2 separate regions of the Homo sapiens genome follow, and region 1 is linked to region 2. Evidence: fine-mapped expression QTL. Tissue or cell type: cerebral cortex. Region 2 holds a variant in brackets; the other region holds the start of a gene. All regions are shown on one strand. Distances are from middle to middle.

The links. PIP is the estimated chance that this variant, and not a neighbour inherited with it, causes the effect.
Region 1: PDLIM2 starts here. The variant in region 2 is fine-mapped to the expression of PDLIM2 in cerebral cortex (GTEx, PIP 0.96).

Annotation. Positions count from the first base shown.
Region 1 is chr8:22,579,067-22,581,681 of GRCh38, reverse strand. It overlaps PDLIM2 (PDZ and LIM domain 2), which reads right to left and starts at 1,207. Exons shown (of 9, transcript NM_001368120.1): 1 at 985-1,207; 2 at 152-303. The coding sequence starts at 1,077. RefSeq lists silencers at 1,171-1,260, 1,991-2,150, 2,161-2,250, 2,351-2,420, 2,491-2,615.
Region 2 is chr8:22,648,536-22,651,288 of GRCh38, reverse strand. The region is part of intron 1 of BIN3 (bridging integrator 3); the gene reads left to right. Among named protein-coding and RNA genes, the nearest start is that of BIN3-IT1, 7.7 kb to the right of the region's middle. The variant ATG/G (reference allele first, on the strand shown) is at 1,382.

The DNA of each region.
Region 1 (2,615 bases), 70 kb after region 2:
GCCCAGGACCTTCTCACCAAGGTGTGGAGAGGGCCCAAGAAGGCCGCTTTAGGGCTGAGCTCTAGCCCATGGGCAGGAGCAAGGGCTGCTCAATACGTGGGGTGGTGGAGGAGGGGGAATGCCACAGGCTCTGCAGAGCGGGAGGCCCTACCGGTCCAGCTGCAGCCGCAGGGGCGAGGGGCTCTGGCGGATCTTGCTCTGGGCCTCGGCATGCAGCATGCCCTCCGCGCTTTCCCCGTTGATGGCCACGATTATGTCTCCAGGCCGGAGGTCAGCGTCCTTGGCTTTGCCCCGCTCGGCCACCTGTAGGGATGAGGAGCTGGCATGCTCAGACCGTGGCCCAGCTGGAGAAGGGACTTCCCACTCTGCTACCCAAGAAACACAGAGGCTGGCTTGACCCAGGCCGGCCTGCACCCTCCTGCATGTCCCTCTGCCTGCTCATGACACCCAGCTGATCAGCCATCCCCTCCAGGAGCGCAGGTGGCAGCCCCCACCCCACACTGGCATTCTAATGGGCCTCCCAAAGAATGTGCAGTGGCAGAATTTCAGGAACTGTGCTTGGAAATACTTTTGGATAGAGAGCCTTGCCCGTGCAAATCGCACCTTGCAGGTGGCTGCCTGCACAGCCCTCCTGTGAATGTTCCCAGCCTGGGCCCAGGTCAAGAGGAGACTGCCAAGAACTCCGGGGCTCTTGTTCTAGTAATCACCCCAAATGGCTGCCTGCAAGTGTGGGGATAGCAACTGGGGAGGCAAGAGCCGGCCCTGTCCTGGTCCCAGCTCCCTTTCACTCCCAAGGTCTGTTCCTGAAGTGGCCACCACATCCCCGTGGCAAAGGGCCACGGCTCCCTTACAGCCAGCACGCCAGGCAGCAGCAGATCCCTAGCTCCAGAACAGAAAAAGCAAGCCATCTGTGCAGAGTGGGGTGAACAGGGCCGACCTCGCTTCTGGCAGGACCTTCTCATCTCTTTGAGCCACCATCCTTACCTTAGTCACCATGATGGGCGTGTGGAAATCCCTGCCCCCTGTGATACGGAAGCCCCAGGGCGCTGGCCCGGCCACATCCACCGTCAACGCCATACCTGAGGAAGAGAGGACCAGGAGGTGAAGTCCATGCCCCTAGCCGGCTCTGGGGGCACTGTAAGGCAGCAGGAGAGGAGCCAAAGGGAGAAGGAGAGGGCACCACAGCTCCCGGAGCAGCTACTCAGGGGCTTTGGGGTGGGTAGAGGAAGTGGCTAACTCCCTCCCTCAGCCCGGTTTCACTTCCCCCCACCCTGGGAAGCCATGCTTCTGGGTTCTCCCTTCCTTAGTCTTCAGCCCAGGGAGCGACTCCCAGGAGGGGGCTGCCCAGGCTGCCAGGCAGGGGGCTTGCTGGAGCATGGGGGGCAGGGGCTGGCAAGTGGAGGGGATGCCAGCACCCCCTCAGTCTCCCCTCCTCCACCATCAGGGCTCAGTCCCACTAGCGCTTGCTTCCTGTCCCCAAAACCCACAGCACACGGTACTTCCTCTCCACTCTGGGGGAGGGCTGGTGAGTGGCCTAGGGAGAGCAGGGCTCAGGAAGCAGGAGTGACGGGTCAAGGAACAGGCTGGCACCAGTACAGACTGTGTAAGTCACTGGCCAGGTGAAGGACTGGTGGGGTGAGGCCGAGTCTTCACATGGGCCTCCTAGCTGCCCACCTCGTTCTTGGCAAAGTGGATCACACGGGCAAGACCGGGCTCCCCACCTCCCCCAGGGGCCGGCTGCCAGGGCAAGGAGGCCAGGGTTCATCTGTCAAGCTGGACACACCCACCCCCAGATTCCTGATGCTGCCCGACAGACAGCCGGGGTGACAGGCCTCCCATCCACAGCCCCTCCGCTGGGCAAGGAAGTGCCCTTGCAGACAGACCCCTGTGGGATTTCCTGAGCCTCTAGCTCTGGAGCCAGGAGCCAATCCAGGCAGGAAGCCGCGGTGCCAGGCTGGGCACCACCCTGCCCAGCACCCATCCTGGGGCTGCCCTGGGGACGCAAGTGCTGCGAGAATCTATCAAGAGCACCAGCGGTCTGTCCGCTCCATCCCCGGCTGCCTTCCCCTTGGGCCCAGGCCTAGCCTCTGTTCCCAGCACCGCCCCCACCCCAGTCCCCGAGGCCGGCTCGCGGCCGCCCCGAGATTCCCAGACCTTTGAGCCGGTCAGTGGACTCCGCGCTGCGGGCGCCGCGGGGAGGTGCCCAGCCCGATGGCCCGGCTCTACCAGTTCTGGAGCCTCCTTCGCTCCGAGGGCAAAGTACCCTGCGGGCTGGGGGCTGGAGGAGGAGCGCTCCGGCCGGGGAGAGCGCAGCTCGCGGGGGCGCCCCCGCTGATGCGAGGCTCCAGGGAGCTGGGCCGCGGACGAGGCCAGGGTTCCGCGCCGACAGGGGCGCGGAGAGGAGCCCGGCGCCGGGGAGGGCGGGCCGCGCGGAGAGGCGCAGGTGGGCGCGCTCACCTGGCTGCCGCTCACCTGTCCGGCTGGGCGCCCAGGCCCGGGAGGGAGGGAAGGCGGGGAGACGCCACCGCTCCCGCTGCCGTCTACCCGACTCTGGGGAGAGCCCGCCCGGGGCTCCCGGACCTGCCTCCGCCCATGTGATCCCGGGGCCGCCCCTG
Region 2 (2,753 bases):
ATGAATGTGTTGAAACCAGAGTTAGACCACAGATTGAATTGGGGATAAGTACGTAGACAAGCAAATGAAAGAAAAGTGACAATTACCAATTTTAGGGAAAGTTAAAAAAAAAGTATGCATGTTATTTATGTATTACTGCTGCGTGACACATTATCCCACAACTTAGTGGCTGGAAACAAATAGTTTCTGTTGGTCAGGAATTTGGGAGTGGCATAGCTGGAGCTTTGACTTGGAAACTCTTACGAGTTTGTGACTCAGTACATCGGCTACAACTGCTATGCCCTAAAGCTTTGACTGAGGCTGAACAATCTGCTGGCTCCCAAGGGCAGGATGGAAGAAAACTCACAATATCCTCCTAATAGTTTACTTAATATTGAGCTAACCAAGTTATTATACTGTAACTATATTGAGAAGAAGAGCTGCAAGTGTGGCTTCATGAAATAGCGATGGGTACCCAAAAATATTTTGTTTGTTTAATTTTAAATCTTCATCTTCCGAAGTAAAAAGTCAATAGCTAAAGTAGATTTTTAGTGCCTAAAAACCTAACGATCTAGAGGTAGCAGTATAAGCATTTATCTTTAGATGTGCAAAGGTAAATACTAGAAACTCAGTTGAGTTGAAAGTGGTTGTTTCTGGCAAATGAGATTAGGGAGTCCTGGGAACTAACGTTTTACTTAAGAAATCTTGTTGCCTTATTAGACTGTGCACACTATAACTTTGATACTAATGATAGAATTTAGATTAACAAAAGGAAGCCATAAAAGTAATAAAGTAAATATAGGTAAATAGTTGCAAGTTGATGGAGTGGAGGAAGCAGGTCATCCTCAGTTTGATACCAAAAGAAGAACTCACAAAAGGCGGATTTAGTAGATTTGATTTCACACTAATCAAAAGCTTCTGTACATTAAACACAAGCATGTACAAAAGTGAAAGGCAAACACTAATCCAAGAAAAAAATCCTGATATACAAACCAAAGTGTGGTTAGTAAAATGTAAACTGTTTCAATCTTTTCAAAAATGTTAAATGTTTCAATCTGTCTCTAGGGCAGTTTGTCAAAATGTGTCAAAGCCTTGAACACAGTATACAGAATTGATCCTGTATGACTCTTAGTGCACACCAAGATTTACCTATTGGAGTTTTTGTTCATAATAGAAGAAAAATTTGAAACGGTTGCAATGACCAGCAGTAAGTGATGAGGTTACAGAAATAAAACGAGTGGTACATTTCCATTATATACCTGAACCACTCATTTTACTTCCGTAGCTCTTAAAAATCAGGAGAGTGAAAATGATATATTCTCATATAAAACCATTCATGATATTTCTTTTACTTATTAATTTAAAAATTATATAAAATTTACATATGCACATGCACACACAC[ATG/G]TACACACTGTGATTCAGGATATTACTGTTAATTTTTTCCTTTGGGGGTGTGTGTGTGTGTGTGTGTGTGTGTGTGTGTGTGTGTGTGTGTGTTGTCCTTTGCGTTTTTCTATCTCTTCCAGGTTTTTAACACTGATCAGGTGCTATTTTTGTAGTCAAGAAAAAAACAAGGGTGTTTTTTTGTTTGTTTGTTTTTGTTTTTGTTTTTGGTTTATTTGAAAGAAAAATGTGGAAAGTGCAAAGAAGAAAACAGTAATCATATTCTCACCACCCAGAATTAGCCACTACCAACATTTGGCATATTTGCTTCAGTTTTTCTTACTGTAAATTTAAAAAATATAAATAGCAACACTGAAACATTAACCTTGGCCATCTTTTAGATGCGGAATCGTGGCTGGGTTTTTCCCTCTCCTTTTCCTCCCTTATACCCCCACCCACCCCATCCCCTTTTATTTCTCAAGTGTTCTGCAATGAGCACGTTTTTCTGTAATAGTTGTTTTAAAGTTACTGTTTCTCGTGTGAATACTTTACTTTTTAAGGAGATAAACTGTAATTAACTGTAAAGGGTAGAATTTTTTAAATGCCAAATAAGTCTTTGACGTTTAGAAGAAGGTGAGAAGTTTTCCTGGGAGCAGAGAAAGCATTCCATATAGGTGGGGTAGCCATTTGTCCTGGTTGCCCTGGGCAGTCCAAGTTGTCCTGATGACGTGTACTCCAAAATGTCCCAGTTTGGGACAGGAAATTATAAGGAGTCTAGATTTGGGGGATTAATGAACAGCCACTTGGCTGAATCATGGCAGTTGTACTGAGTGAATAGGAAAAGTAAGGTTGAGAACATATTACAGAAGCACATTGAATACTAATGTAAGTTCCTCCACTGATTCTAGGGCTGAGGCAGGAAATGTACAAGATGCACTTGGTACATGTCGTAGAGCTGGAAAGTAAGGAAATACACACACACACTTACATACATACATACATACATACATACATACATACATACATACATACGTTGATGTGGATATGTCAAAGGGACACAGAAGCCAACTGAAAGAGCTGCCAGTGGTGAAAGCTGGAACAGTTTGAGCATCAAAATAATGTATTAGATTATAACCCAAAATATAAGATAAATATCTGTGAGTCCATACTGATATTGAATGGTTGAATAAATAAGAAATAGGATTCTGCATGATGGCTTCCTCCCAAGGAGTGCAGTAGGGAAAGGGAGAAGGGAGAGTAACTTCACAGTAGGAAGCTGAGAAAGATGACCTCAGCCTGGTGATCAAGGTTCACATCAGCAGGGTAAGGCATGTTGACATCGTGGACCCTGGGTATGATGTGGTGAGGATGGCTCTTCTGCTCTGTGATCT